Linked DNA regions of Homo sapiens. The protein of the gene in region 1 purifies or fractionates together with the protein of each later gene. This does not show direct contact. Each region holds a gene or a part of one and is shown in the gene's direction. Other genes may lie near its edges.

The links. The genes of interacting proteins can lie anywhere in the genome.
Region 2: the proteins of TENT4A (region 1) and LRP6 purify together in Homo sapiens (affinity purification with mass spectrometry; 2 studies listed by BioGRID and IntAct, with this or other methods). This does not show direct contact.

Annotation. Positions count from the first base shown.
Region 1 is NC_000005.10:6,712,013-6,716,231, forward strand, and holds the start of TENT4A (terminal nucleotidyltransferase 4A), read left to right. Parts: upstream 1-1,419; 5' UTR 1,420-1,971; coding exon 1,972-2,687; intron 2,688-2,736; exon of another isoform or gene 2,737-3,107; intron 3,108-3,129; exon of another isoform or gene 3,130-4,219. UniProt on the Homo sapiens protein: Terminal nucleotidyltransferase that catalyzes preferentially the transfer of ATP and GTP on RNA 3' poly(A) tail creating a heterogeneous 3' poly(A) tail leading to mRNAs stabilization by protecting mRNAs from active deadenylation.
Region 2 is NC_000012.12:12,257,045-12,260,544, reverse strand, and holds part of LRP6 (low-density lipoprotein receptor-related protein 6 isoform b precursor), read left to right. Parts: intron 1-3,500. UniProt on the Homo sapiens protein: Component of the Wnt-Fzd-LRP5-LRP6 complex that triggers beta-catenin signaling through inducing aggregation of receptor-ligand complexes into ribosome-sized signalosomes.

The DNA of each region.
Region 1 (4,219 bases):
TCCACGTGTACAATATGAAGGTATTTGAAAACGTCTGAAACATTCATTTTCATTACTAACCACCACCACTTGCCCCAAAGCCTTTGTATGCAACACACGGACCTTTCCTGTTGGGGCGATGTTTGAAGGGTCAAGTGCTTAGTAATGTCTACTCATCTGTGCTGGAGACGAGGGGGTAGCATTTACAACACGCCTGTACGAAGGCCAGGTCCCGTTCTACTTAAAAGGCTTGGAGCCCGGGCGCCACTGGGCTAAGGCAGCTTCAGGGCCCTGGCCCGGGAGTGCATTTGCGGGGACTCCGCCTGAAGACAGGGCGGCAGCCGCGGGGCCTCACGTCGCCCAGGCTCGCGGGGCACCGCGATGATCAACGACACTGGCGTTTGCTTTGGACCTCACAGGATGTGTGGTTGGCGCTGTATTCCAAACAGTGCCACTGTCAACCCGGCTTCCATCGCGCTCGGGACACCGGGATGGCAAACGGCAGGCTGTGGATGGCGGGCGGTTTCCCACTGACTCCTGCCCGCTCGGTGCAGCTGGAAAAACCGAAGCCGGGGGCCGGACGCGCCGCCCACCAGCCGTTCCTCGGCTAGCACTGCCCATTTTGCCCAGGGAATTAACTTGGAAGTTTTCACTTCACTTTTCGCATAGAAAATCATTTTAAAAAGCAAACCAAACGCCTGTAAGCAGACCCGCTAGGGAGCAGGACTCTGCCGCGTGTCCTTCCCGGCTCCGGAGCGGCGGAGCCAGCCACCCGGCACGGCACGCTGGCCGCTCACCCCGCGAGGTGCAGGGAGCACGTGGGCCGACGCGCGGACCCCAGAGAGCGCAGCGTGACCTGCTGCACGGACCCTCGGATGAGAGACCTGGGGCGGGATCTGCGACCGGGGCCCGCCCTTACGTCAGGAGGGAGGGCCGGCCGGCGGGGGAAGCGCCTGCGGTGGCGTCCGCTGCCCCCGCCCGGCTGCTCGGAAACTTCCACCGGCGGCGGTGACGGCCACGCTGCCCTGCGCACGCGCAGCGCGGCTCAGGCGGCAGCCCGGTGACACCGGCCCTAGCGCGCATGTCTGCACGCCGGGGTCTGCGCGCCGCGGCGGGCCGAGGGCGGCGTGCGGGCCTTCCAGCCGCTGCCTATTCCACCCAACGCCGGCCTAGTCAGTAATGGCTCAACGCCACCGCCTCTCCCTCCAGCCCCTCCCAGTCGCGTAGCTTCTGACGCCGTCCTCACCCCGCCCGCGGCCGACGGGGCCCCAACGCGCAGGCGCGGTAACCACGGCGGCAGTGTCTAGTGAGGATTTGAAATCGGTCGCGCGTGCGCACCGGCGACACGGCCCGGCGACCGAGGCCGCGCTTCCTCCTGCCGCCCCCGTCCCCGCCCCCTCCCCCGCCCCTCATTGGAGCGGACGCGGCGGCGGCCCCCTCCTTCCCCCGCGCTGTCGCCGCCGAGAGTGTCTTTTCACCGCCGCCGCCGCCGCCGCCGCAGGAGCGCCGAGCCAGCGGCGCGAGCGTGACTGAGGGCTAGCCGCACGGGCGGCGGCGCCTCCCGCGGGTCCTTCAGCCGCTCGGCGCCTGGGCCCGCCCCCTCGGCCCCGCCGCCCGCCCTTCTCCGATGGCCTCTCCCCGCGGCCCGAGTGGAACGCCGCCGCCGCCGCGGCCCCCGCGCCCGCCCCGCGCCGCGTGAAGCGGGAGCCCGGAGACCGCAGCCGCCCGCTGGGACGCGCCAAGCGCCGGAGCCGCCCGCCGCGGCCTGCCGGGGCCCATCACCGCCGCCGCCGCCCCACGCCGGAGCCCGACGGGAGCGCGGCTAGAGCAGGAGGCCGGGGCTCGGCCCGCCCGCCGCCGCCGCCGCCGCCGCCGCCACCGGCCCAGGCCCGTCCGTCCGTCCGTGCGCGCGCGGCCGGGCCTCGGGGCGCGGCGGGGGCGGGGCCGCGTCGGGGCGGGCGGGCGCGCGGGCCCCGCGGGGGCGGCGCGTGGATGGATCCGCGCGTGGCCTGGATCCAGCCCGAGCAGAAGGGGCCGGCCAATGCCCTGTGGATGCAGATCTGGGAGACCTCGCAGGGCGTGGGCCGCGGCGGCTCGGGCTTCGCGTCCTATTTCTGCCTCAACTCGCCGGCGCTGGACACGGCGGCCGCGGCGGGGGCGGCCGGGCGGGGCAGTGGCGGCCTGGGCCCCGCGCTGCCCGCCGCGTCGCCCCCGCCGCCCGGCCCCACCGCGCCCGCCGCGCTGCCCCCCGCGCTGCTGACGGCGCTGGGGCCCGCGGCCGAGGGCGCGCGGCGCTTGCACAAGTCGCCGTCGCTGTCGTCCTCGTCGTCGTCCTCCTCGTCCAACGCGGAGTCGGGCACCGAGAGCCCCGGCTGCTCGTCGTCGTCCTCCAGCAGCGCCTCGCTGGGCCGGCCGGGCGGCGGCCGCGGCGGCGCCTTCTTCAACTTCGCCGACGGCGCGCCCAGCGCCCCTGGCACAGCCAACGGGCACCCCGGGCCGCGCGGCCCCGCGCCCGCCGGCTCCCCGTCGCAGCACCAGTTCCACCCGGGTCGCCGGAAACGCGAGAACAAGGCCAGCACCTACGGCCTCAACTACCTGCTGTCCGGCAGCCGCGCGGCCGCTCTCAGCGGAGGGGGCGGCCCCGGGGCCCAGGCGCCGCGGCCCGGCACCCCGTGGAAGAGCCGCGCGTACAGCCCGGGCATCCAGGGGTGAGTGCGCGGGGAGGCCGCGGGGGCGGGGGCGGGGCCCATGGTCCTGGCCGGCGCCCGCGGTGCAGACACCCGTCCCAGGCGCCCGGGCTTTTGGAGGATGGATGTTGAAGGCTAAGGCCAAGGCCCGACTCTGCACTGAAAGTTTTTTTTTTAAACATCAGACTCATTTATCGTGGAGTGACTTGCCCAGATCCTACAAGTAACAGTCCAAGAAAAGGGGCTGCTGGGTAGGACCTGCAGGTATTTGTCTTTTTTACTCTTGAGATTGGAACGGGAAATCGACTCTCTACCCCTCCACCCCGCCTCCGGGCAAGTGAGGAACCCCTTGTCAAAGTGGGGCGTAGATAAGTGTGGAGTTTCACGTAAGTTAAGTTGCAGAATAATTTAGCATTGCCAGGAACTCGAATCACGTCGAAGGTAAATATTAACCTTTTTAATTTCATTTTTTAAAAAAATTTAACTGTCAACTTAGAGGTGATTCATTTTTTGGGGGGTGTTGTGTCCTTTAATTTTGTGCTGCAATTACCATAAGCATCGCCTATGGTTTATAAACATTGGCTTAATTCAAAGAAAAAACCAGATTTGTCATATATGTCTATTCTTTGGAAGGTGCCATTTTTATTTTAAATATTTCTACATCCGCCTAGAGGGAATTAGAGGCTCTACTTAAATTTAGTGCACTTACAGACGGCAAGGAATGAAACGAAAGGTGGTGTGTGTTTCGGGGTTGGAATTGTCCCAGGTGAGGCTGTTCAGGTGTGATGCTGTTGACGCAGCCCCTTTGCCATTTTGGGCTTTTCTGAGCGTCTGGAAGCAATTTATGTGTAGGTTGTATGTCAGTATTTTAAGACTTAAATGATAATTTTTCCTTGCACAATTTTTCCCCCCAATTTAAAAAACAATTAAGGATTTGCTGGGGTATGAGGGTTGTTGCATGCAGTAGAGTCCTACAAATAACCACAATTGCTAGGTGTTGGGAGTTCTTATAGTAAACTTTTGCTTGTAACTCTTTTTCTCATTTGAAGTATGTTGGGAAACACGAGTTGATACTTCTTTAAAGCGTGTGATACACTGTAATAGCTGCATGTTCTGTAACTTATTTCACCTGGCTTGGGCTACAAGCGATACCTTCTAAATTTCCCGAAGTGTAAACATGCAGTGCAGACGCCGGCAGGAGCGCAGACTCCTCTTCTCTCCCTCCAGTTCTTACCTGTAGAACTTTCTGAGAGCAGGTGGTTGGGAGCAGTTTCTTCTTGATGAATAGCAATATATACCTAAGGGCTCGCTTGGGGAGGACCTTTAGGTTTCCAGCCTGTTATGTAACTGGAATGGACTCCGTTTCTCTTAGCACTAGAAAAAACAGGAAGACACGTGGTCTCTGCCAGTCTTGGGTTGTACCTCTGCTCTTAGAAAGTGGTAGCGCATCAGGTCCCATGCACCTCACTTGGGCTCCCCGAGCTGTTTCCTCCAGGTAACTCTAGTCAGGCTCAGTAGGTGGTGTTGCTTTTGTTAGTGAATGAGCCCACTAG
Region 2 (3,500 bases), on another chromosome or scaffold:
GCACTGTTTTTGGCAGTTGATAGTTTTAGGCCAGTGGTTTTGGAATTTTTTTTGATTCTTCTGCAACTGGAATAAAAGCTCCATAAAATACTTTTACTTATGGAAATTTCTGTTTTGTTTGATATAAAACGGAATGACACTAAATTTTTTTTCTTTTTTTTTTTTTTGAGACGGAGTCTTGCTCAGTCGCCCAGGCTGGAGTGCAGTGGCGTAATCTCGGCTCACTGCAAGCTCCGCCCCCCGGGTTCACGCCATTCTCCTGCCTCAGCCTCCCGAGTAGCTGGGACTGCAGGCCCCGCCAACACGCCCGGCTAATTTTTTTTGTATTTTAGTGGAGACGGGGTTTCACCATGTTAGCCAGGTTGGTCTCCATCTCCTGACCTGGTGATCCAGCCGCCTCGGCCTCCCAAAGTGCTGGGATTACAGGCGTGAACCACCGCGCCTGGCCTAAATTTATTTCTAAAGGATTGCAGCCATAACTATTTTAGGTGATGATTATTATAAATAAGCTACAGAACAGACAGTTCAAATGATTGTGATACTTATTAAAGAGTTAAGCATGGGCAAAATAATTTTATCAAGACATCTAATTGAGAAATTGCATTATTTGTTTACAACAATTATTCAGTTGGTGGATTTCTTTCTGCAGGATGGCTGAATGCTATACTGAGTTTCTGCATTGCATGTTTTCACTTCGGATAAGGGTGTTTATCTTCTATAAAGTAAGCCTCACTTCAGTGAATAAAACACTGTTTTATATGAGTAACTTTGAAATTTAGTCAAATATACAGACTAGGCAATCTAAGAACAGGCTGTTTGCTCTTAAAATTATTTATTTTAAAATACAATTTGTCAGTACATAAATGCAAGGAAACAAGGTTATTTGGTATTATTAACATATGCTTTTGTTTCTCAAGCTGTTCGTGTTTGCGGCAGTGAGTATTCTCACTAAAGGTTCAAGCTGTTCGGGTGTGAGGCTAGAAACTTTTAAAATGTGCTTGGACTCTTCGGTGAAAATTATTGATACTTTGATGCTGTGATCCTTTTAGCGGTATCATAACTTGTAGTTTCTGTAATATCTTGCTTGGAAGGACCTTGTATAAGTGCTTAAATATTTTGGAACTAATTTCAGGAGGAGATTGGGGATGCAAAATGAAATTATATTTTTAGGCAGAAAACTACATTAAGTTATGTAAGTTATTAACACCAGGCCTAAAGTTATTGATGAGACTCTCAATAAAAATAACATGACCAGCAGTAGTCTTTTTTTTTTTTTTTTTTTGAGATGGAGTCTCGCTCTGTCACCCAGGCTGGAGTGCCGTGCCATGATCTTGGCTCACTGTGACATCTGCCTCCTGGGTTCAAGTGATTCTCCTGTCTCAGCCTCCCAAGTAGCTGGGATTAGTAGGCGCCCACTATCATGCCTACCTAATTTTTGTGTTTTTAGTAGAGATGGGGTTTCACCATGTTGGCCAGGCTGGTCTCGAACTCCTGACCTCAGGTGGTCCACCCGCTTTGGCCTTCCAAAGTGCTGGGCTTACAGGCGTGAGCCTGCTGCACACAGCTGTCATTTTTTTTTTCCCAAGAAAATAGTCACCCAAATATTGGAAACCTACCTTTATCAAATTATGTATGTTTAACCAGGAGGCTATTTTCTCTAATGGTCTTAGTCATTGTTTTATCACTACAAGACCCAAACTACAAGTAAAGGACTGCAAGGGATAGGAGTCTTCCTCACTAATGATTAGCTTTATTGGTACGTATAATTTAAGTACTGTATATCCATATATCCAGTTTAAAGATACTATGTTTTGCAAGTCTGAGAAAGGTGACGAGTGAACTTCATTACCATGAATTCTTAGCTACACATTATATTGTCTTTATTTGTAACCTTCTAGATTTATGCTAATGCAGAAATAGCTCTTTGATGAAAAGTTTTTGAAGAGTAGACCTTTTTCCCCTTTATATGCACCATGTACCAGAGGTTTGCACATATTGAGCACTGTAAATTTTACATTTAAAGTAATATAAAAAGATGTGAATTTTTATGACATTTATTTGGAATGCCATTTTGTGTTTTGACTCAATCGTTCATTAGCTATAGTTAAATTATAAATTTGTAACGATTACAAAGATTTCTTAGTCTGGGTCATGGTGGCTCACACCTGTAATCCCATCTCTTTAGGAGGCCAAGGCGAGAGGATCACTTGAGGTCAGGAGTTCAAGACCAGCCTGGGAAACATCTATAAAAAATTAAAAAATTATCTGGTCACGATGGCACATGCCTGTAGTTTCAGCTGCTTAGAAGGCTGAGGCAGGAGGATCACTTGAGCCCAGGAACTCAAGGCTACAGTGAGCCATGATCATGCCACTGCACTCCATATCACAGACAAAACCCTGTCTTTCAAAATAAATAAATAAAGATTTCTTAGCATAGATTAGATATGTTAAATAGACTACTAAAAAATCAGCATATTCATATCTGAGATTGAATTCAAGGTGTGGACTATGTAACGTGTTTTCTGGTTTTAGGATATAACTATTGCACTGATATAATTAGTTTTTTTTTTTTTTTTGAGACAGGGTCTCACTGTGTTTCCTAGGCTGGAGTGTGGTGTGATGCTATCATGGCTCACTGCAGCCTGGACCTCCTGGTCTCAGGCGATCCTCCTGCCTCAGCTTCCAGAGTAGCTGGGACTATAGGCACGTGCTACCACGCCCGGCTCATTTTTAATTTTTTTTTTTTTTTTTTTTTTTTTTTTTTTGTAGAGACAGGGTCTTACTATGTTGCTCAGACTGGTCTCGAATTCCTGGGCTCAAGTGATCCTCCTGCCTTGGTTTCCCAAAGTGCTTGCGATTACAGGCATGAGCCACCATGCCTGGCCTCAAGTACTTTTTTCTTTCTTTCTTTTTTTTTTTTCATTAAGCCCTTTCTATCAAGTACTTTTTTTTTTTTTTTTCCTTGAGAGGGAGTCTTGCTCTGTCGCCCAGGCTGGAGTGCAGTGGCGTGATCTCGGCTCACTGCAAGCTCCGCCTCCCAGATTCATGCCATTCTCCCGCCTCAGCTTCCCAAGTAGCTGGGACTACAGGCGCCCACCACCACGCCCAGCTAATTTTTTTTGTATTTTTTTAGTAGAGACGGGGTTTTACCGTGTTAGCCAGGATGGTCTGATCTCCTGACCTCGTGATCCACCCGCCTCGGCCTCCCAAAGTGCTGGGATTACAGGCGTGAGCCACCGCACCCGGCCTGTCAAGTACTTTTTTAAACCAAGTTTTTTGGAGCTATAATTCACATACAGTAAAAATCTCCATTTTACAATGTCTAGTTCGGTGGCTTTTAGTATACTCACAGGGTTGTAAAACATCACCACTATCTCATTCCAGAACGCTTATCATCCCCTGCTCCCTCAAAACCCATACATTTCCCATTTCTCCCTTCCCTCAGCCTCTGGTAACCATGAATTTACTTTCTGTCTCTATGGATTTGCTTACTCTGAATA